7 linked regions of the Homo sapiens genome follow. The protein of the gene in region 7 purifies or fractionates together with the protein of the main gene of each other region. This does not show direct contact. Each region holds a gene or a part of one and is shown on either strand. Other genes may lie near its edges. The genes, in order: XRN2, PRKCZ, UPF3A, TBC1D23, LSM12, OSGEP and API5.

The links.
Region 1: the proteins of API5 (region 7) and XRN2 fractionate together in Homo sapiens (co-fractionation; one large-scale study listed by BioGRID). This does not show direct contact.
Region 2: the proteins of API5 (region 7) and PRKCZ purify together in Homo sapiens (affinity purification with mass spectrometry, with the first as the bait; one large-scale study listed by BioGRID). This does not show direct contact.
Region 3: the proteins of API5 (region 7) and UPF3A purify together in Homo sapiens (affinity purification with mass spectrometry, with the first as the bait; one large-scale study listed by BioGRID). This does not show direct contact.
Region 4: the proteins of API5 (region 7) and TBC1D23 fractionate together in Homo sapiens (co-fractionation; one large-scale study listed by BioGRID). This does not show direct contact.
Region 5: the proteins of API5 (region 7) and LSM12 purify together in Homo sapiens (affinity purification with mass spectrometry, with the first as the bait; one large-scale study listed by BioGRID). This does not show direct contact.
Region 6: the proteins of API5 (region 7) and OSGEP fractionate together in Homo sapiens (co-fractionation; one large-scale study listed by BioGRID). This does not show direct contact.

The regions. Positions count from the first base shown.
Region 1 is NC_000020.11:21,341,331-21,344,830, reverse strand, and holds part of XRN2 (5'-3' exoribonuclease 2), read right to left. Parts: intron 742-3,500; coding exon 623-741; intron 1-622. UniProt on the Homo sapiens protein: Possesses 5'->3' exoribonuclease activity. May promote the termination of transcription by RNA polymerase II.
Region 2 is NC_000001.11:2,165,411-2,168,910, forward strand, and holds part of PRKCZ (protein kinase C zeta type), read left to right. Parts: intron 1-2,880; coding exon of another isoform or gene 2,881-3,157; exon of another isoform or gene 3,158-3,500. UniProt on the Homo sapiens protein: Calcium- and diacylglycerol-independent serine/threonine-protein kinase that functions in phosphatidylinositol 3-kinase (PI3K) pathway and mitogen-activated protein (MAP) kinase cascade, and is involved in NF-kappa-B activation, mitogenic signaling, cell proliferation, cell polarity, inflammatory response and maintenance of long-term potentiation (LTP).
Region 3 is NC_000013.11:114,298,601-114,302,100, reverse strand, and holds part of UPF3A (regulator of nonsense transcripts 3A), read right to left. Parts: intron 3,262-3,500; coding exon 3,101-3,261; intron 371-3,100; coding exon 76-370; exon of another isoform or gene 50-75; intron 1-49. UniProt on the Homo sapiens protein: Involved in nonsense-mediated decay (NMD) of mRNAs containing premature stop codons by associating with the nuclear exon junction complex (EJC) and serving as link between the EJC core and NMD machinery.
Region 4 is NC_000003.12:100,319,992-100,322,864, forward strand, and holds part of TBC1D23 (TBC1 domain family member 23), read left to right. Parts: intron 1-785; coding exon 786-980; intron 981-2,873. UniProt on the Homo sapiens protein: Putative Rab GTPase-activating protein which plays a role in vesicular trafficking. Involved in endosome-to-Golgi trafficking.
Region 5 is NC_000017.11:44,035,672-44,039,171, forward strand, and holds part of LSM12 (protein LSM12), read right to left. Parts: intron 2,514-3,500; coding exon of another isoform or gene 2,418-2,513; intron 1,868-2,417; coding exon 1,741-1,867; intron 1,432-1,740; coding exon of another isoform or gene 1,234-1,431; exon of another isoform or gene 1,191-1,233; intron 630-1,190; coding exon 537-629; 3' UTR 1-536. UniProt on the Homo sapiens protein: Nicotinic acid adenine dinucleotide phosphate (NAADP) binding protein. Confers NAADP sensitivity to the two pore channel complex (TPCs) by acting as TPC accessory protein necessary for NAADP-evoked Ca(2+) release.
Region 6 is NC_000014.9:20,448,857-20,451,812, reverse strand, and holds part of OSGEP (tRNA N6-adenosine threonylcarbamoyltransferase), read left to right. Parts: intron 1-2,546; coding exon 2,547-2,642; intron 2,643-2,799; coding exon 2,800-2,849; intron 2,850-2,956. UniProt on the Homo sapiens protein: Component of the EKC/KEOPS complex that is required for the formation of a threonylcarbamoyl group on adenosine at position 37 (t(6)A37) in tRNAs that read codons beginning with adenine.
Region 7 is NC_000011.10:43,321,996-43,325,495, forward strand, and holds part of API5 (apoptosis inhibitor 5), read left to right. Parts: coding exon 1-141; intron 142-1,434; coding exon 1,435-1,641; intron 1,642-3,500. UniProt on the Homo sapiens protein: Antiapoptotic factor that may have a role in protein assembly. Negatively regulates ACIN1. By binding to ACIN1, it suppresses ACIN1 cleavage from CASP3 and ACIN1-mediated DNA fragmentation. Also known to efficiently suppress E2F1-induced apoptosis.

The sequences.
Region 1 (3,500 bases), on a different chromosome or scaffold from region 7:
TGTTAATCTTATTATATAATGATCTCAAACTTCAGGATGAATTAAAGAATCAGCTTCCTATTTTAAATTTGAAGTATACAGTTAAAGGGAAACTCCTCTGTCATGAAATATAATTGCGCATATGCAAGTCTGTGGTTTTTAAAAAACATACATATTGATCTCTTAACAGAATGATTTCTGCATATTTCATTTTGAGGAAGAACTCTTTCAATAGAGAAGATTAAGGCAAACTATATTAAGTGTCTAAGTATAACTGAACTTTCTAGGTTAAGCAGCTTGAAAATTTAATCAGTCTCCAAACAGCAACATTCAGATCACATAGTCAGAGCTAAACACCTAGATATGATATCTAGCCGATCTTGTGCCTGGTCTCAGAGGGAAAAGTGGATTGGAGGACGAAAGCCTGCACGCATACTAATCTAGACACTTAGGTTTAACAGCTACAGCTTACACATCTCACTGGAATTTACTGACTATTCTAACCCTCCACATTAATTACTGATGGATAAAAAGATCACAGGCAAGCATCTGAAGGCACTGCTGCTCTAAGCTAAATAGCATTAATTAGACTGCATCTATTTCAGCAATTTGCTAACAAAGTGCTACCAAAAAATGGCTTCACCTGACATTATCCTCTGGCTCAGGTTCACTGTCACTGTCTTCTGCTTTTCGCTTAATTCCTCCTAATGGAGACGGGGAGCCATCAGATGTGAAACTCGTATTAGGAGATATCGAAGGACTCTGCAGACAATGATGACATTACAGAAGAAGGATTTCATTATTCATTTTACATAAGAAGGTACATCCAACCACCACTACTTACCATGTTTCACAGTAACATTTTTAAAGCTACTACATAGAGATGGTAAACATATTTAGAAGGTACAGAGACTGATCTTGCTCCATTTCACTTCCCCTCAAAAGAAGTAATGTAATACCCAAACTTTCTATGCTTAAACTAAAAACAATTAACATTATTAGGGCAAAAAAAAAAGTTTCTGAAGAAAAAAAAAGTTTTAATTTTATAGATTTTTAAAAATTATAGTACTTGAATTTTATTTTCCTTTGGTGGTTCACAATCATTTGTGACAATCAGTTGTAACAATTCCTGTTAGGAATTCACAATCATTTGCCACCTACCAAATGGCAAAGCTATGAGGGGAAAAAATTATGTGATATATAAAATGCATTACATATATAGCATATAATATATAATAATATAGATGTAATAATATATAAAATAGTCAATGCTGGTGAGAATGCAGCTAAATGGTTAAGTCTTCAACCTAGTACAACCACTCTGAAAAGCAAGTTTAATAAGACTGTGTTAGATAACTTAAATTACTTTATATGTTCAGTTTTAAAAATCAATCAACAAATAAAAATCTATTAGTCATCTTAGAAAAATGCAGATTTTATTGGTATTTCAAAGACTTAGCTGTCACTTTAAATTCAGTATTATCTTCCCTTTGTACCTAACTCAATTAACATAATACGTTAATTTTAATTAACATATTTTAATATAACCCTAACATATTTTAATATTTAAAAATTAAAAGAAAATGTTCTGCAACTTTAGTTACTCAAGCTAAAGGACCACATCACCAAAAACATAAGGGGCAGAAACATTTCCACAGTCAAGTTTTTCTTCTGTTACTCACAGTATATTAGCTATTTCAAGTAAACTGAATTTTTTTTAAACTGAGAGCACAGAAGGCCATTTGAATGATATAATAATTAGAGTATCCACAGCATAAACACAGTTCATACCACAGGTCAAGAAAAGTTAAAATAATACGAAATCATATTTCACATAGAACTTAGAGCACATCTCTTTTAAAAACATAATGTCAATGTTATTAATGAAAAGGTACAGACAATATTGTCAAAAAAAAACCCAATAAAAATAAATACAGGAAGGCACTGTTGTACTTGGAAAACGAGGCAGGTATTGTTGTATTTTAGTCATACAGATCTGAGTCTGAAATACCAAATTCAACCTTTACTGGCTGTGTGGCCTTGAACAATTTATTACTTAACCTCTGTGAGCCTCATCTTAAAATGGGGATGATAACGTTCTGTTTCCTTACAAGTTATTGCAAGGATTAAATGCATCAATACATGTGAAAGATTACTGGCATGCTGCCTACATGGTACATGGTAGTTAACCATTCAGTAAGTAATCACTATTGTTTTTTCAACCCTACACTAATCCATTTGTATTAAATTATGAGAGTGACATTCCCATTAACTGTCTACAGAGAAGTTGTGTAAAAAGCAAACTTTAACAAAATTAATTACTAACAAGATATAAACTCTATCTTTAGAAAACAAATAATAATATACTTTCTAGAAAAAAATGCTGTTCACCATTTAATGCTAAATCTCCGCTGCTGTCTCTACCAACAAAAATATTCCCTTGTGAACATACCAGATTCATATTAAATTCAAATTTCTTCTTAAGCTGTTTTTTTCATCAAATTAGATATAATGAAACCACACTGAAGAACGCTAAATATAAAACCACAAATATAAGGAAATGGAAGCTATTTAATAAAACACTAAGAATGTTAATCATCAGTAGATAAGTATTAGAGACTACAACCCAACAGCTCAGAAAAATAAAACACGAGAAATCTGTAACTTTAATGGCTCCCTTTAAATAAACTGGTAATTTGACTTCAAAATTTCCTTAAATTTAGAACATTCTAGGTGAAAATCCCACTCTGCAAAGATTCGAATTCCATACCTCCTCTATATAGAAATAATTGTGGCAAGGGAAGTTAATTAAGACAGAATCAAAGAAGCAACCTCATCACCAGTCTCCCCATTACTACTCCTATGGCAGATGTTATCGATCTACAGTCTGGTCCTGTGGCCTAATACTACCGGGCCTGAAGATAATACTGGAATGCTTCCTGAAGCAACCACAGCTGGCAAAGTTTAAACCTGCCTGCCTCCCAAGATTTAAAAAAAAAAGTACTCTACCATCAACAGGGCATATAACACCACCAGTCACTCTCAGTTCTGCTCTGCGGGGATGGTAGTCACTAAAATCTTGAATGATGGGCATCAGCTATTTCTGTTCCATATGAGCATCAATAGGATAACTAACAGAATAACAGAAATTAAATATCCAAGCTTATTCAATTTCCTTGGATATATCATAGCAAAAGTGTATGTTCCTTCCTCTACTGTTAGATCAGGGTCTGTTCCCTCAGCCCTGTTGCTGTCCCACTGGGTATTCTGAGAGCTCATGGTCTATTTCCACTACAATAGGAAGGTGGTGGACAAAGTACAGCCTTGCAGGATAGGTTGATTTGCTTCTGGAGTTTGGATTACCAAGTTCAAATATGGAAGAATACCACAAGGCAAATAAATGCATGCAGTTGCTGAGTTCACAAACAGGGAGTAACCAGTAAGTGCTACCTTAAGATATTTATTTAGATCTATTCCATGCTGAATTGGAGAGCCAGAGTTTACACCTAAGGAATACTATT
Region 2 (3,500 bases), on a different chromosome or scaffold from region 7:
CCCCTAACCTGTCTGTGCCTCGGCTTCCCCATCTGTAAAATGGCGAGAGCTGAACTTACTTCCTGGTGATGGGGTCAAGTGCGTTAACACAGAGGGACTTGGAGACTGACGCTTACTGAGGGCCACACCAGCGGTCAGCAAAGGTTGTCTTAAAGGGTCAGGCAGTAAATATTTCCACCTTTGTGGGCCATGCGGCCTCTGTGGCAACTATGCGTTCTAAAACAGAAGCAGCCTTAGACACTGCGTGAAGGGACGCGTGTGGCCGTGTTCCACCAGAACTTTCTGTACACACATGGTGGTGGCCCGCCCGGACCCATCTGGTTAATTCTTGACTCTCAGGGCAGCGTCTCCTGTGCCTCCAGGAGAGGGCTGTGGTTCCTCCCTCTGAGCCGGGCACCTTGCATTCCTGGAAGGGGTGGGGGGAGTGGCGAGGAGGGGGCGGCACCAAGGACAGGGCCCACCTCCTAGGAGGTTTTGTGAGCTTCCCTCAGCCCCCGGCCGCCCCCTAGGAGGTTTCGTGAGCTTCCAGCATCCCCCTGCGGCCACTGTCCCTCCATTTCCCATGTCTGTTGGATGGTGCCGGTTCCAGGGCAGGGTCAGGGACTGGATCCGGCTGCGGTCTGCGTCTCGCCTGGTTCCTGAGAGCTGCACTTTGTCTTTGGTTGTTGATGAATCCATTTTTGCTGGCGTTCTTCACGTTTGTGTATTTGATTAAGTATCATGGACAGGCATGTGCAGTGGCTCACACCTGTAATCCCAGCCCTTTGGGAGGCTGAGGCCGGAGGATCACTTGAGGCCAGGGGTTCAAGACCAGCCTGGGAAATATCTCGAGACCCTTTCTCTACAAAAAATTTAAAAATTAGCTGGCGGTGGTGGTGCAAGCATGTGGTCCCAGCTCCTCGGGAGGCTGAAGCCGGAGGATTGCCTGAGCCTGGGAGGTCGAGGCTGCAGTGAGCCATGATCACACCACTGCACTCCAGCCTGAGTGACAGAGTGAGATCTTGTCTCAGAAAAACAGCCCCGAGGGCACGTGTCTCATGACTCCCGCCTCCCGCCTCCCATCTGGGCTCTGCTTGCTCCTCTCCCCTTGCAAACATGAGAGGAGCGTTAATGCCAGGACAGGGAGCAGGGAGGGGCATCCCCAGCGCCTCCAGGCCACAACATGGCGAGTGTGGCTACCAGGACACGGAGGGGCAGCCTCAGCCCCCTCCCCCAGGCCACGACATGGCGAGTGTGGCTACCAGGACACGGAGGGGCAGCCTCAGCCCCCCCCAGGCCACGACATGGCGAGTGTGGCTACCAGGACATGGAGGGGCACCTTCAGCCCCCCACCCCCACCCCCAGGCTGTGCTTCCCAGCATCCCTTGGGGTCAGGACTGTGTGTGTCACTGAGGGGCTACGGGTGAAGCCACACACGCCCCTGGCCTGGCCTTGCGCCCCTGCCTGAGAGCCTCTATGCAGGACAGCGCCTGTGGGGCACCCAAGTGGGCCGAGCCCATGTGGATTACAGGTGCACACCACCAGCGTGAGGAGAGGAGTGGGCTCGGAGCATGCTCAGCCATGGTCCCAGGCATCTTGTCAGCAGCCAGCTCAGCTTGTGTCACGCAGAGTCGCCTTAGAGTGAATTGACACCAGATTGTCCTGGTGGGTTTTTGCTCTGAAGAAATGTCAAAAGTAGCATTAAGGTTTTTCTGTAGACAAAAAAACCCCACCATCATTGCAGCTTGAGCAGTTGCAAATTAAATAAATTCCTTCCTCAGCAAGCTGCCTGGGTCCTAGGCCTTGGGCAGAGAGAACTGGCTTTCAGCACAGTTCCCGTGATTGGCTTTTCTCTGGAGAAGAAGGGGAAGCGGCCTCCGCCTCTACCTCTCTAAGTGTTTAAATGTCCCCCAAATTCTCTCAGCCTCCTGAGGCATTGTATTGATGCTTTTCTCTAGAATTCATGTATTTCTTTATTTTCTCTGGAAATGGCATTGGCTTTGTCCCCGTCCTATGGGCCGTGATAGCTTAAAGTTAGGATGAACCCACAGAGGCCGTGGAGGCCCTTCCCAGGCGCCGCAGCAGCACTGTTGGGGTGAACGTGGCTCCTCTCGGGGGGACAGGTGGAAGGGACCAGCACCCATTGGGGCGTGTAACTCCTGGTGGCAAAAAATGTGCGGTGAAGTCACCCTAAGGGTTTTTGTGGTTTTTTGTATTTTTATTTTATTCTTTGAGACAGAGTCTTGCTCTGTCGCCCAGGCTGGAGTGCAGTGGCGCAATCTCAGCTCACTGCAGCCTGTGCCTCCTGGGTTCAGGCGATTCTCCTGCCCTCAGCCTCCCGAGTAGCTGAGATTACAGGTGCACACCACCAGCCCTGGGTCATTTTTGTATCTTTAGTAGAGATGAGGTTTCACCATGTTGGCCAGGATGGTCTCGAACTCCTGACCTCAGGTGATCTGCTTGCCTTGGCCTCCCAGAATGCTGGGATTACAGGCCTCGTGAGCCACCACGCCCAGGCACTCTAAGGGTTTTGAATAAATTCTTTCTTAACGTTTTCTGACCGACTCTTAGGTCGTGGGTGTCCTCCAGGGGTTGGAGGCCTTCATGGAGCTTCGTTCCGTGGGGTTGACGTTACTGAACGAGTCCCTCCACGGGTGCACTGAGGACGTTCCTGCACATCGAGGGCACCCTCAGAGCTGCTCTTTCTGTCATTGCTATTTTGTTTATACCGGGGATTGGCAAACTTTTTCTTGAAGGGCCCAAGAGTAGACATTTTTGGCTTTGCGGCCACAGGGTCTCTGTTAGCAACTCCCTCTGCCACGGTGGCTGGAAAGCAGACATAGAAAATAGATGCACCAGTGAGCATAGCCTCGTTCCAATAAAACTTTATTTACAAAACAGGGAGCAGTGGACCAGCGAGTCCCCAAGGACAAGGGCCAGGTTACCAGAGAATTTCCAGGCACATCCGTTGGAGGCAGGGGAGACAACAAAAGCCGAGGAACGAGCCTTCCCCAGCCGCTCCCCAAAGGCACGGCTTATTCTTCAGGGTGCCCGACTGGCCACGTGGACGTCTCTCCAGCTCCTCACTTGGGGCCCAGGGCTCTTTCGATTTTTAGGAGTTTGTTTCCAATCAGAAACTTCACAGATGATTTGCAGCCAGTTCACCTGCCCTGTGTAAACTGGCCTCTGTCCTCTCTGGCTTAATTCTGGGAGCTTGTGGAGGGCAGGAGCAGGGACAGGTGCCTTGAGGCGTAACAGTGGCGGTGGTGTGGGAGCTTGCGTGGGATCGAAGGAAACGGGCAGAGTCACCACACGCTTCCCTCCTTCACTCCCCGCTCCACGAGGGGCAGCCAGGAGCAGCCACCAGTCGGAAGCAAATAAACAATTCAGGTGCCAGAGGAGCCGCTGACCTAAAAAAACCCGCCACAGGGTATTTCTGGGAGATTGTATGAGAATTTAATTTTGAAAATTGAGTCTCATGAAATGTAGGAAAAGATCTTATTAGGAAGAGAAACCATGTG
Region 3 (3,500 bases), on a different chromosome or scaffold from region 7:
GGGGTGACATGGTCAGCATGCAGCCTGGACCTTAAGACAGCCAGACACATTTTTCTTTTTGGGTTTAATAAAAACCTTGTTTGCCAGTCGCTCTTTTCTGGGTGCTGGACTGTCGTCACACCTCTGCGCTCTTCCCAGTCTCTCCATGGCCTCCCCCGGAGCCCCGCTGTCCTGGCTCCCCTTCTTCCCTCTGTCTTGGCCAGGTCCTTTCCCCCATCTCTGCTCATCCTCACTCCTTCTGGAAAGCCGTTCAGGCTCGTGGTGAGCTCTGTGCCTCCTGCCGTCATCCACATGGTATCTTTGTGCTTCAGATTCTTGTTCTTGAGATCTCTCCACATCCCTGTGCTCTTTATCACTGCCGCTGTGTGACCTATGATTCAACACAAATGATCAGCAACTGCAGTAAACCGCCGGTTGGCTGCCCACCCTCCTTTCTAGACCACAGGTTCCCAGACAACAGGGACCCATGCGAAGTGCTCAGCGCTGCACTGCTGAGGCTGCACTGCGATGGGCACACAGCAGGCGTTGATAAAAACCACTACAAAGAGGAATAAATCATAGTAATAGTATCTGTCATTTCAGTTGAGTGACAGATAGGCAATATGCCTTATACTAAGGTACTTTTTTTTTTTTTTTCTGAGATGGAGTCTCGCTCTGTTGCCCAGGCTGGAGTAAAATGGCGGGATCTCAGCTCACTGAAAGCTCCGCCTCCTGGGTTCACACCATCCTCCTGCCTCAGCCTCCCGAGTAGCTGGGACTACAGGTGCCCGCGACCACGCCCGGCTAATTTTTTGTGTATTTTTAGTAGAGACGGGGTTTCACTGTGTTAGTTAGGATGGTCTCGATCTCCTGACCTTATGATATGCCCATCTTGGCCTCCCAAAGTGCTGGGATTACAGGTGTGAGCCACCGTGCCTGGCCATGCTAAGGTACTTTTTATACATATTTTCTAATTCTCAATAACCCTCCAAAGTAAATACCTTCTTTTGACCAGGCATGGTGTCTCACGCCTGTAAATCCCAGCACTTTGGGACGCCAAGGTGGGTGGGATCACCTGAGGCCAGGAGTTGGAGACCAGCCTGGTCAACATGGTGAAGCCCCCTCTCTACTGAAAATACAAAAATTAGCCAGGTGTGGTGGCATGTGCCTGTAATCCCAGCACTCTGGGACGCCAGGGGCAGGCAGATCATTTGAGGTCAGGAGATTGAGAGCAGCCTGGCCAACATGATGAAATCCTGTCTCTACTACAAATACAAAAATTAGGCCAGGCACAGCGGCTCACACCTGTAATCCCAGCACTTTGGGAGACCAAGGCAGGCAGATCTCCTAAAATCAGGAGTTCGAGACCAGCCTGACCAACATGGAGAAACCCTGTCTCTACTTAAAATACAAAATTAGCCAGGCATGGAGGGGCATGCCTGTAATTCCAGCTACTCAGGAGGCTGAGGCAGGAGAATTGCACGAACCCAGGAGGCAGAGGTTGTGGTGAGCTGAGATCGCACCATTGCACTCCAACCTGGGCAAGAGGAAAACTCCGTTTCAAAAAAACAAAAAAAAAACAAAAATTAGCCAGGCATGGTGGCGGGTGCCTGTAATCCCAGCTACTTGGGAGGCTGAAGCAGAATTGCTTAAACCTGGGAGGCGGAGGTTGCAGTGAGCCGAGATCGTGCCACTGCACTCCAGCCTGGGCGACAGGGCGAGACTTTGTCTCAAAAATAAAATTAAAATAAAATAAAATAATAAAACAAAATAAAATAAACCTTCTTTTCTACAGATAAAATGACTGAGACTAAAGTGGTCCAGTGGCTGTCCTGGGAGCCCAGGTGCACATCCATCATGATGTGCAGAGTAAAATTAACTGACATTTAATAATGGCAGATTAATTATCTTTATGCATTTATCAGAATATTAAATGAATAGTAAATAAATGGCTGCTTCGCTCATTTGCCAGGGCTGTTGGGGACCATAAGGATCTGTAACCAAGTATGAATTCACAGCAGACACGTGGCAGTAGGTCCTGCTGTGTCATCAACTGTCACAGTAACAACACCGGTAACATCATCACAGTGCTTCACAATCATGGATTTGATAATCATATATAAATTTTATAAACAAAGCAATAAACCAAAACTCCCAAGAAGTAGAAAAAATACTTCATCAACTCTGAACGAAAGGCAGTGAGAAATCACACCTACGACTATGGCTCTGGGAAGCCGGCAGCCTAATCGCATTAGTCTTCCCACCTAAAATCCACGTCCATCATCCCCTGTGGGCCAAGTGGCCCTGGGCACCAGGAGACTGTGGGTGGCGAGAGGCAGTGAGTGGGCAGGAGTCCCGGAGGGGAAGGTAAGCCCAGGTGCCTGGGGCCCTGAGGATGGTGGATGCCAGGAGCAAGAGGGACAGGATCCCTCCTGACTGGCATCTGGCTGGTCTCTCTGGCCCACCGGGCAGATAATGCTGTGTCTGTCCCTTTCGCAGATGAGCTCCCTCCATAGAGCTGCACTGTCATATGCAGCAAAGGAAAAGAAAAAGGGAGGACCCACAGTGCACAGCCAAAGCTGCTGGTCAAGATCCACAGCCAGAGGAGCCAGGGACAGCTTCAACCAAAGGATCACAGCACTTAAAATTCTGTTTCTCTATCACAAAAGATCTGCCAGACCTAAAAGAGGGGGTTCCCAAATATGCAATTCTGTAGATAAATTGCAAGGGGGATAAAAGAGCAAAGGGCAAGATATCACAAACACAGAGAAAAATAAAAAACAAAAAACAAAAAGAAAGACTGGGAAGACAGATCCTGAAGACCTGACATGCAACAGCAGGAATCCAGGAGGCGGCTCAGGAGTAAAAGGAGGACATGGAGGCAAAAGCAAAGCAAACAACAGGAAGAAACTCCCGATCTGAAGACAGACTTGAGACTGCAGACAAGACGAGTTCACTACGTTCCTGCCATGCTGATGGGAAATGAAGGCTAACGTGTACTCGCACACCCTGGAAAGTCTTGGATTCCAAGAACAGTGTGAAATAGGCATACTCATACTGACAAAGCCTACGTCACCATGACTGGGAGCTGACGTGGTCATAACAATGAAAGCACGCTCACGTCTCCTGGGGCTCCTCCAGCGAGCCTTCCATGGGCCTGGCTTTTACGACTGCACCGGGGGCACAGGATTCCTGCTTGCCACCTCCAGTATCAATCTCCTCTCCTCTTTCTTTTGGTTTCTCTGTGGTTGGTTCCTCTCCCTTTTCTGGTTTCTTAAGAAGCTGAGAAATTACAATGTTAGTAAAGTATCACCTTGAGAGCATATTTTAAAAGAAGCTGTTAAATAAATAATTACAAATATACCCCAATATTGAAGCCAAATGTTTGCACAGCAAAGAATTAAAGCTAAAGGTCCAAAAATGAGGTTTTTGGTTTAATACGTGGTGGAACATTCAGTGAATGAAATATTTTTTAGTCATGAAAAGTAAGGTAGGTTAATGTGATGCAAAGATGTTCACGT
Region 4 (2,873 bases), on a different chromosome or scaffold from region 7:
GTGTCCCCAAAGTATCTTTTGTAGTGTGTTTTTTCTTTGGTGATCCATGATCCAGTTCATGGTTTACACATTGCATTGTCTGTTATGTGTCTTTAGTCTCACCCTGTGTACAGCAGAACTCATCCCCCCACCCCCTCGCTTCCCTTTTCTCTTCATGATGAATGAATCCTTTGAGTCCAGGTCAATCATCCTACAGAATGTTCCACATTCTGCACTTGTCTGATAACTGTCGTATTGTATTACTGTACATAAAAAATGTGAGAGTATTATATTAAAAAGAAGCTGAGATACAGGGGTTGGGTGAGTGTTAATAATACTATGCTCATTTTGCCTTCAGGATCCAGTTACAGAATGTTTACAAAATATGTAGGGAAACCCAACAATTGCCTAGTGATCTTGGATATTAGATATAGGATATGGTGCATTGAATGAGAATAGTTTATGAATATAGGTAATAGCGTTAAAAAATCTGAAACGTAATATACTCCATTTCAATAAAAAATATATTATTGTAGTGATTTCTATGTTGTATGGAACTTTTTATTATATTTATTATATTTTCAATCATTGCAGGATTATCTGTTAATAAAATATTAATTTTGCATACAATTAAAAGGTGTTAATGTGTAGCTTACTTGTTTATAGATTAACCTCTGTTTATATCTTTTAACTCAATTTTATTTAGAGTTGAACATTTCTAATAATTGAGATGGTTGAAACAACACCTGTTTTGAATTAAATTTACTTAAAAATTCTTTTTCTTTTAATGCTTTTTTTGTCTCAAGTCATCTGTTGGTTACTGCAACACATATGTACTGTTTAAGGGAGATTGTTTCACGGAAAGGATTGGCTTATATACAGTCTCGACAAGCGCTGAATTCTGTAGTTAAAATTACATCCAAAAAAAAACATCCTGAACTCATTACCTTCAAGTATGGAAATAGCAGTGCTTCAGGAATAGAAATCTTGGCAATCGAAAGGTAAGATTTTCCTTAAGATAATATTATCTGAATTCAGATATTATCTGAATTACTGTAGTTCACTATAAAGAGTTTGTTTCTTTATTTTGGGGAATGGATGGTGGAATAGGATAGCTGAACCACTTTTAGTGTTTCTTATCTCTTTCTCCGGAGTCCTTAGTCATGTGTGGTTTAGCCATTAGCACATGATTTGAGTAAGTGCCATAGCTAATTTCATAAAGTTTCTGACCCAAGGATCCTTATTGTTAATCTGTACCAGTGCTGCACTAATTGCTGGCTTGCAGAGAAATAAGAAACTTGTTTTAGAATATGTTGATATTTTTATTTTCCTTCATCGAAAAATTCTTGTTTTGACAAACTGTCAGTGAACTAAGCAGTGTGCTGGGTGATATAGGTAATTTACAGCCTGGTACAAGCCCCCCTTTGTCTCATTGTGGGTCACTAACAGTTCACAGACTGGCCCAAGAGCTGTGGACCACACTGATATTGATACTAAACCATTTTTTAATTATAGATAAAAATATGAAGCCCAGAGGGGTGGAATGACTTCCCAGATCCTAACACTTAGTTTGTGACAGAACCAAATATAGCCTTCCTGACTCCTGATTTGTGGTTTATTATACCTTGCATCAGTTCAAGTTGTTCCCCCACTGGGATTTAGGATTACACTTATTATTTACAGGAGTGCTTGGATAAATAGTAAGCTTAAGGTTATATCGCAGCACTTTTAAATAATCAACTTCAGTTGGAAGAGGAAATTATTCAGCTTCTTTCATCTTGTACTGACAATTAGGTAGCAAACATCATGAATCTATACTGTTTTATGTAATTTGTTAAAAGAAAATAATACCTGATTTGTAAAAAAAAAAAAAATCACTTCATTGCTTTATGTAAGAATAAATATTTACATAGTGATATTTTCAATTAATAATATAAAGAATATGTCATTCTAATTCTCTGTTAACACATTGATGTGTATCTTCTCAGATTTTTTTTAATGCATATGTTATTTCTCTACTAAAAACTAGATAAATGTGATATAGGCTTGTTTTTGTGTTCTGATTTTTTAAGAAAATAGTATAGTGTGAATATACTTACATTTTAATAAATATAAATTTTTTAAAATTAATTAATTAATTTTTTTGAGACGGAGTCTCTGTCACTCAGGCTAGAGTGCAGTGTTGCAATCACGGCTCACTGTAAGCTCCGCCTCCCAGGTTCACACCATTCTCCCTGCCTCAGCCTACCGAGTAGCTGGGACTAGAGGCGCCCGCCACCATGCCCAGCTAATTTTTTTATTTTTAGTAGAGATGGGGTTTCACCGTGTTAGCCAGGATGGTCTCCATCTCCTGACCTCGTGATCCACCCACCTTGGCCTCCCAAAGTGCTGAGATTACAGGAGTGAGCCACCGTGCCCGGCCCAATAAATATAAATTCTTAGCTTTTTAATGGTAGATATTCTGTTATAAGGATTTCTCAGGAGATTGATTTAACAAGCCTCATGTTGATTGGCATTTACATTGTTTTCATGTGTTTCACTATTAATCTTCTAGTGGGCCTTTAAAAACATGTATGTTTACATAGTTGTCCAATTAGTCTTCTCAGGATAAATTCCTGCAAGTAGATTCAATGGGTGAGAGGTATACACATTTTAATATCTACTTATAAATTAATCCTAACCAAAGGAGATTTGAATTATGACTCTCTCATGTATAGTAAAAGTTGGGAATTGTGTTTTAAAGGCTTTCCCACAAATTTTGCTAAATAAATTGAAGTTTATTATATATGGATCAACATCTTTTTTTTTTTAATTCAGAGTTTTGGAAGATAGTCTTAATAGTGGAAGATAAAGTAACTAGATTCTCTCTCTCCCTTTCTTCATTGATATTTATG
Region 5 (3,500 bases), on a different chromosome or scaffold from region 7:
CTGTGCAAAAAAAAAAAAAAAAAGAAAAAAGAAAAAAAAAGGAAAAGAAAACAAAAATTTAAAGTGAGACGTTTGCTGCTCTGGTCTCAATTTAAGAATCACAGTCAGCTTGTTACTTTTATTTTGGAAGAAAAGATGTAAAAGTTTCTTTCAATCATTCAGAAGGCAAGTGTAGCCACTTATAAAAACAGAATGGCAGGAACAAACTAGGAAAGGAAAGTCAGAAGTAAAGGGCAGAGTGGGAAAATAATTTTCAAAAATAAAATTAACAAGGTGACTGTTCCAGAAGAGGGCTGTGAAAAGGACATGGTGGACCGAAGTCTGTTAGTCAAGTAATGATTCAACTTTTAAATTATTCTCTTGTTCTTTTTTGTTGGGTGTTTTGTTTGTTCAAGTCTAAGATTTGGAAATGCTGACCCTTTGTTAAGAGCCAACAGGACATATAGGATCCCTTCCCTCCCCCGGCCTGCCTCCGCTGAAGCCACCACCAGCGCCTCCTTGGCTGGATGCTGGAAGAGTCCTCCATGTGTACGGACTCAGGATGACAGGGCAGCCTCCTTCTGTGGTTGCTGGGCTTGTGAACGTTGCAGTATCTTTTGGCTTTCCACGTCTCTAAAATGTTTTTCAACCTGAAAAAGACCAGGCAACCCAGGTCAACAAAGGAGATGCGGAAGAAAGGTCTCCCAAACAATCCAACCCAGGTTTCCACAGCCCCATCCTGGCTGTCCAGCCCATTGGTGTCCAGGCACCTTTGCCCTTGCTGTCTATTGGCCTTCCCAACCACAAGGTAGGCCAGGGCCTCCTGCTTCAGCCACATTTTTTTGCAGTTTCCACTAAGATTGGCTAGAAGAAGGTGAATCTACAAACTAAACTATAAAATATAATAAGGGGAGATTATCATGACCTAAACTCCTCCTCTCTTCTATACCCAAGTACAAAATGAAAAGCTGCTGGGGGAATTACAGTCTTATCAAACCTCCTACATCTACAATGTTGGTCTCTCAATGTTCCTCAGAGGAAAAAAAAAAAGCAGGAGTGTTTTTTAAGTTTGTTTTAACAAATGCTAAGTCCAGTGACATATGTAGGGTCAGAGACACCGACGGCAACTGATTTATACCAACCAGATCTTTCTAGAATGGTACCTGCAGCTAAGAAAAACCCAATATGGGGCCAGGCGTGGTGGCTCATACCTGCAATCCCAGCACTTTGGGAGGCCAAGGTGGGCAGATCACTTCAGGTCAGGAGTTCGAGACCAGCCTGGCCAACATGGTGAAACCCCATCTCTAGCCGGGTGTGGTGGCATACGCCTGTAGTCCCAGGTACTCGGGAGGCTGAGGCAGGAGAATCGCTTGAACCCGGGAGGCGGAGGTTGCAGTGAGCTGAGATCGCGCCACTGCACTCCAGCGTGGGCGACAGAGCGAGACTCTGTCTCTAAAAAAGAAAAACTCAATATGGGATGAGAGAAACTGCTCAGGCCCAATACCATGGAACAGTCTTCCTAATTCCAAAAAGCCAGCAAAGGACATAGGGTCACCCACTCACTTCTTTCCACACCACCCAGTGGTTCCATTCCCACAGGACTGCAGAACCCCACAGTACAGGGAAGGCAGGGAGGCCAGACAGGGCCTCTGCTGCTAGAGGAGGCAGAGACTGTAGCACAATGTCCTGGTCTGGTGCTAAAGACTGAAGGCCTGAGGAACCATCCTCTCTCCCCTAAAGTCTGAAGGCTCCTTTACTTACTATTTTGCGTACATGGCTCAGTGCACTCCCCTCTTTGCCTTTACAGTTTTCCACTTGATATGGGGGTGTAATAACAACTTCTTCCATGACTACGATGTTTTTTTCTTGCCATTTACAGTCTTTAATGCTGGAAGGAGAAGACAGCAGGCGAAATGTAACCTCTTGGGGGCATCCCACATCTCCTGTCTGATGAATAAATAACTCCAGAAGGCTGATCCCAAGTTCCCAGCTCACCACTCAGCCAACAACTAGATGCCAGCAGCCCATATAGTAGCCAAGAAACATTCCTTGGGTGCCACTGGCTAGAAAAGCAATGAAACTCATGCACATTTATTCTTGGGAGAGCCCAGAAATTGTTACTCTGAAGCATCAGAGATCTGGAGAGCCATAAAAATGTGATAGTGGCCTCAAGAATCCAAATTAAGATAGCAGCCTAGGGCAGAGGCTGGCAAACTTTTTCTCTTAAGGGTCTTGTAACAAACATTTTAGGCTTTGCAGTCCATATCATCTGTTACAACTAGCACTGAGTTCTGCCATAGTTGTACAAAAGTAGCATGGACAATAGGTAAAACAGATGAGCAGATGTGGCCTGCTGGCATAGTTTGTCAACCATTGGCCTAGGGAGAAATACCACCTTTAGAAAGACAGGAGAACAGGTCGGGCGCGGTGGCTCACACCTGTAATCCCCGCGCTTTGGGAGGCCGAGGTGGGTAGATTGCTTGAGTCCAGGAGTTCGAGACCAGACTGGGCAACAGGGCAAAAACTCGTCTCTACTAAAAATACATACAAAAAATTAGCCGGTAGTGGTGGCATGCGTCTGTAGTCCCAGTTACTCCGGGGGCTGAGGTGGGAGAATCACCAGAGCCGGGGAGATTGAGGCTATAGTAAGCTAAAATCGCACCACTGCACTCCCAACCTAGGCAATAAAAGTGAGACCCTGTCTCAAAAAAAAAAAAAAAAAAGAAAGGCCAGGCACAGTGGCTCACGCCTGTAATCCCAGCACTTTGGAGGCCGAAGTGGGCGGATCATGAGGTCAGGAGATCGAGACCATCCTGGTCAACATGATGAAACTGTCTCTACTAAAAATACAAAAATTAGCTGGGCGTGGGACTGCGCGCCTGTAGTCCCAGTTACTCAGGAGGGTGAAGCAGGAGAATCGCTTGAACCTGGGAGGCAGAGATTGCAGTGAGCCAAGATTGCACCATTGGACTCCAGCCTGGTGACAGAGTGAGACTCCGACTCAAAAAAAAGAGAGAGAGAACAAACTCCCCATCTTCCTATGATCTGTACTCTGACCCTTATCACCCATAATGGGAGCTGCTCTTCAGACTGGCTCTTCTCAATTATCAGACAGTTGGGCACTTGCCAGACTGGGAAAACCCATTCCAGTTCACACTTGGGAAGCCCCAGGGCAGCTGATGCGACTGGGAGTTCCTTCACATACCTGTAAATGTTCAGATACTCACACCACAGCCTCAAACAGCTCTGATGCCAGCTGCCATCTGTGCACCAGATCCAGGGTGGTTAAACAGAGTAACAGATGGCAGTGTGGGGTGGGGGGAGGCGGGGTGGAGAGGGGTGTCAAATGTTCCAGTTTTTCAGCAGCTAGGGAAGCTAGTGGAGAGTCAAATGACTTCTGCTGTGACAAAATGTTTTTTTTTGAGACGGAGTTTTGCTCTTGTTGCCCAGGCTGGAATGCAATGCACAATCTTGGCTCACCACAACCTCCACCTCCAGGGTTCAAGCGAATCTCCTGCCTC
Region 6 (2,956 bases), on a different chromosome or scaffold from region 7:
AAATTTTGGCAGCATGATCAGAACATTAGATGGCTTATCATTATCAGACTTTATATCTGATTATAAAGATTAGGAATTTCTACTTCAGGAAAGGAATGAATGGGATTGAAAAGGATTGAAATCTTCAAAATAATGAATATCTGAAAGCTCTTGCATTATTTTGAAGCTTATTTTTTCTATAAATCTTAGCAATTGAAACTAACAGTTGCTGGGTATGGCAACTCATGCCTGTAATTCCAGCACTTTGGGAGGTCGAGGCGGGTGGATCATCTGAGGTCAGGAGTTTGAGCCCAGCCTGGCCAACGTGGCAAAACCCCATCTGTACTAAAAATAACAAAAATTAATTTGATGTGGTGGCAGGTGCCTGTAATCCTAGCAACTCCGGAGGCTGGGCAGGAGAATCACTTGAACCCAGGAGGCGGAAGTTGCGGTGAACCGAGATCGCACCATTGCATTCCAGCCTGGGCAACAAGAGCAAAACTCCGTCTCAAACAAACAAACAAACAAAAAACAAAAAAAAACAACTAAAGGACACTACCTGATTTATTATTTTGGGGCAAGTACATGTTTTGTTTTTATATTACTGGGAATGATTATGTAGACTTTGTTATTCTAAGAGTTTAGAAATATAAATAACTTTAAAAAATACTTTGTAAATTATAGAAGGTATTTTATTTTATCTTATTTATTTATTTATTTATTTGAGATGGAGTTTCGCTCTTATTGTCCAGGTTGGAGTGCAATGATGCAACCTTGGCTCATTGCAACCTCTGCCTCCCGGGTCCAAACTATTCTTCTCTACTCCCGAGTAGCTGGGATTACAGGCACCCGCCACCATACCTGGCTAATTTTTTGTGTTTTTAGTAGAGACGGGATTTCACCCTGTTGGTCAGGCTGGTCTTGAACTCCTGACCTCAGGTGATCCACCTGCCTCGGCCTCCCTAAGTGCTGGGATTACAGGCGTGAGCCACCATGCCCGGCCAGAAGGTATTTTAAATTTATAGGTGAAGCTAAAGTTGTTTGGGTTACCTTATATGACCTTTTTAAGGTTGGGATTGGATTCTTTTCCAACAGAACACTTGATTATCATTAGAAATAGTTCAGCATTGTCCCCAGCTCATGAAAGGGTTGTGTCGAGAAGATGAGGCACATGTTTCCCATGAAAATGATGCAGAAACTTCAGCAGGTAGAGGGCAAGTAGTTGGTTGAGGCCTGAAGGATGACATACAAGGTCAGAGACTTGGGTTGTGGAAAGTATAATGGAGGCTACAAGAGTTGATGAAAGGAGCAGTGACGGTTTTGTCTTCCTCTTCTCTTTTAATGTTTGCTTAGGTGTAAGAAACAGGGAGGGTGATTAGGTGGAGAGGAGTGGATAGCAGAAGCAGAAAGGCAGGATTTTTCCTTCGCCTTTGTTACTGTCTTTTTGACAGCAGATTAAGATCTGTATCAGAAAGGGAAGAAATCCCTAACAGCACTGGGAAGGGAAAGGGACTTCTTAAGGTTCGTAGGAAGCCCTCGGTGTTATAAGTCTGCAGAATATGTGTCAGTAAGGGACAGATATTCTCTGTGCTAAAAGTTGGTCACATATGAAGAACGGCCTTAATACAAAAAAGTGGTGGTGGGTGCCTGTAATTCCAGCTGCTTGGGAGGCTGAGGCAGGAGAATTGCTTGAACCTGGGAGGCAGAGGTTGCAGTGAGCTGAGATCACGCCATTGCACTCCAGCCTAGGCGACAGAACAAGACTCTGTCTCAGAAAAAAAAAAAAAAGAAAAGAAAAATGGCCTTAAGTGAATTGCCATTGCTGACTTGGCTGGGCCATTAGTCTGACTCCATATGAGATTTTTGAGTTCTTCAGCTCTGCTTCTTGGTTCTAAATACCACTGCCCAGCTGCATACGGTGGTTCACACCTATAATCCCAGCACTTTGAGAGGCTGAGGCAGGTAGATTGCTTGAGACCAGGAGTTTGAGACCAGGCTGGGCAACATAGTGAGACCCCCATCTCTACAAAAATATAAAAATAAGCCACACATGGTAGCCCAGCTACTCAGGAAGCTGAGGTGGGAGGATCCTTTGAGCCTAGGAGGTGGAGGCTACAGTGAGCTATGATCACACCACTCCACTCCAGCCTGGGAGACAGAGCGAGACCCTGTCTCAAAAAAAAATTACCACTGCCACTGTGTCATAATTTAGAAGGATTCATGTTCTCTGCCTCCAAGCAGAAAAGCCGGTTACCTACTATCAAGACTGCATTTAAGGGATATATTAGGAACTTCTAAGCCGGAAAACCAATGTATTTGAAATGACAATTTATTTCTGCCTGAACCTACACTGTCTAGGAATCTGTTCCTGGAATCCTCAGGGTATACAGATTTCTTCTCAAATCAGAGCTGTAAAAACTACCCATTCACCATTTGGGAAACACCTTTCTTCCACTTCTTATTGGAAGCCCTGGTGGTCATGTTGATCCTCTGCTATGTTTTTCTCCCAAAGCCAAATAATCCTCTTTACAGACTTGGGGTTTCATGGACTTCCTCATCACCCTTAGGTGATTGCATACTCGGAACATCGTTACCGTATCTTTGGGGAAACCATCGATATTGCAGTGGGTAATTGTCTGGATCGTTTTGCTCGAGTGCTGAAGGTAAGCCAGTGGGGCTGCAGAGAACATAAAATGTGGGTGAATTTTTGGGAAGCCATGGAGGTGGAGGGAGGAAATAGTAAATGAGCTTCTTATGCTTCCTGCATATCTGATTTCATCCTCTTCCATTCCCTCCTTCCTTATTTTTTTCTTCTGCTAGATTTCTAACGACCCAAGTCCAGGATACAACATTGAACAGATGGCAAAGCGGTAAGGGGACATAAGGTGGAAGCAGGCTGGCTGCTGGGGCTTCAGGGATTTCCCCATATACGGTATATATTAACAAAATTTGGGACGGGCTTTGGAGGGTGAGAAGC
Region 7 (3,500 bases):
GGGTTGTTCAGCCAAATACTTCAAGGAGAGGACATTGTTAGAGAACGAGCAATTAAATTCCTTTCTACAAAACTTAAGACTTTACCAGATGAAGTCTTAACAAAGGAAGTGGAAGAGCTTATACTAACTGAATCCAAAAAGGTGAGCTTTGGTCTTCATTTGGTGGAAATTCTCTAAAGCAAAAGAGCATACTTGACATTGGCAGTATTCGTCAATGTTATGTGTGGCTTGTGTATAAAATGATATATCATATATCCCATTGGAACCACCATAGAACTTCTAAGTTTTTCTTAGATTGAATTTAGCACTTTTGTCGGTGGTAATGATGAATCAATTTGGTAATTTAAAGGAATCTGATTACATTTAAACTTTTCGTGGTAGTGTCCTTAAAATTTGTGCAACCTCTGCAAATCACCTCCTTCAGGAAACTTTCCCTAAGTCCTACCCCTCCCTTCCATTTTAGGATACTCTCTCATAGTATTCTAAATTATTTCAAAATGAAACATCACATCAAAATGACCTGTTGTCACCTTAGCCCTTGACACTATCTGCTCTTCAAGGGTGAGACCATGCTTGTCTTTGCTCCCAGCATCTAGCATAGTTGTAGACGCTAAGATTGGCAAGGTGCGTCACAATTAACTTTTCACTCATCTTAATGTGCCAAAGTTTGGGAATAGTTTACTTTTTTAATATGTTACAGAAGATTCAGCATTTTATCTAAAGCATGTGATCACTGTTATGGTTCAGGCTTTAGAAATTTCAGACTACTACTACCCACTTCCTTATTGATAAGATTATTTTTCAGTGAGAAAAAAGTAGATCTTTAGCTGGGAGTATCAGACTATTTTACCTATGCCCCAGCTTGTAATCTGGTAGAGTATGTCGTGATTGTGAGCTTTTTTGGTCCATGAATAGAAAGATTTAGACCCACTGATATGGAAGATTTAACATGAGACTTGCAAGGTGACCTATTTTGTATACAACAATTACCATATTAATATGAATTAGGCTGCTTTTAAATATAGGATACAATCTGATTCAACAGTTTGCTACAGAATTTTTCCAACCATTTTTTAAAGTCACTCCCCTAAATAGCCAATTTTTTTAATTTTTTTTTTTTCTTAACTGCTCTCCCATGAAATTTTAATGCCACATATACACTGTATATCTGTTTATGGTACTACATGTATATCTGTGCTTTGTACGTAAAAAAGTAACATTTTCTAAGAACCAATTTTTGCCCCCTTGGAGAATGCGTGGTTTACACTGAAGCTCAATTGACTGAAGCTAGAAGTTGCCTTTTCGTCAGTATTTTGGAAGCATTAATAACAAACTGACTTTAGTAACTGAAATAAATTAGCTATTCTCTTTCAGTGTTGATCTGTCCCATTCAAATGATGAACATACTCTTATTCTGAATTGTCTCTTTTCCAGGTCCTAGAAGATGTGACTGGTGAAGAATTTGTTCTATTTATGAAGATACTGTCTGGGTTAAAAAGCTTACAGACAGTGAGTGGAAGACAGCAACTTGTAGAGTTGGTGGCTGAACAGGCCGACCTAGAACAGACCTTCAATCCCTCGGATCCTGACTGTGTGGACAGGCTCTTACAGTGCACTCGGCAGGCAGTACCCCTCTTCTCTGTGAGCTCTTTATTTTTACACACCCGGTATTAGCTATATATATATTTCCATAAATACTCACTTTAACATTCCCCTTAAACCTTTCCAGTAGTGTCCCTTATCTGAAATGCTTGCTTGGAACCAGAAGTGTATTCAGATTTTTGAATATTTGCATTGTGCCTGGTTGAGCATCCCTAATTCAAAAATCCAAAACCTGAAATGCTTTAATGAGCATTTCCTTTGAGCGTGATGTTTGAGCATCACATTGGTGCTCAAAAAGTTTTGGATTTTGAAGCATTTCAGATTTGGGATTTTCAGATGAGGGATGCTTGGTCTGTGTTTATGAAGGCCACAGTGGTGTTGGTGAGAACCCAAAGCAGCAAGAAACTTTCTTGAAAGAAAGAATTTTTTTTTTCCTTTGAGACAGAGTCTTGCCCTGTCACTCATGCTGGAGTGCAGTGGCACGATCTTGGCTTACTGCAGCTTCTACCTCCCAGGCTCAAGCCTTCCTTCCATCTCAGCCTCCCAAGTAGCTGCTACTACAGTCATGCACTATCACACTCGGCTAATTTTTGTGTTTTTTGTAGAGACGGGGCTTCCCCATGTTGCCCATACTAGTCTTGAACTCCTGAGCTGAAGCAGTCTGCCCACCTTGGCCTCCCAAAGTGCTGGGATTACAGGTGTGAGCCACCATGAGTGGCCAATAAATTTTTTTTAAGTCTTCCTAGAGACTTTTTTTGAAAGTCATGAGAATTTTGCATTCTGTCTCAGGCTTTGTGTTTCCTGAGGCCATGCATCTTCTGGGATGTGCATACATTCATTTGAAAAACACAATTTAAAGGAACTATCCTAGAGCAGGCGTGGTGGCCCGTCCCTGTAATCCCAATCCCAGCACTTTGTGAGCCAAGGTGGGAGTATCACTTGAGGCTGAGTTCAAGACCAGCCTGGGCAACAGAGCAAGACCTTGTCTCTACAAAAAAAATTAAGTAATAGAATTATCCCTTTTGAGAAATGTGCAGTCTGAAAATCCAACACTAAAAGATGTCCACAATTCATTTATTTATTTATTTATTTATTTATGAGACAGAGTCTCGCTCCATCCCCCAGGCTGGAGTGCAGTGGCATGATCTTGGCTGACTGCAACCTCCACCTCCCAGATTCAAGCAATTCTCGTGCCTCAACTTCCCGAGTAGCTGGGATTACAGGCAAGCACCACCACACCCAGCTGATTTTTTGTATTTTTAGTAGGGATGGGGTTTTGCCATGTTGCCCAGGCTGCTCTCGCACTCCTGAGTTCAGGCAATCCACCTGCCTCAGCCTCCCAAAGTGCTAGGATTACAGGCATGAGCCACCATGCCTGGCCATGCCCCAAATTTGACCAGAGAATCAAGGAAGAGATCAAAATGTATAGATGTTCCAATGCTCCAGATGACTTTGCAGTAAAGTATATAAGGGGTCTTCAAAAAGTTCCTGGAAAATGCATATTATGAAAGAAAAAAAAAAAACTACGCATGGATTACAAAACATTTTTCACCAAAATAAACTTGTACTTATAACATGTCTGAACAGGATATAGTTTGAGGAACTAAGAAGGGTCAGACATCAGTTTGAAAAGAGCACCTATCAGAGCAACATGAATTCTGCTAAAGTTGAAGCAAGAACAAATATCGAATTTATGGTGAAGCTTGGTGGAAGAATAGTGAAATCATTGATGCTTTATGAAAAGTTTATGGAGACAATGTCCCCAAAGAAATCAACAGTTTACAAATGGATCACTCATTTTAAGAAGGGACAAGACAACGTCAAAGCCCATTGCAGCAGATCAATTTGCGAGGAAAAATTTAATCTTGTTTATGCCCTAAATGAAGAAGACCGATGAT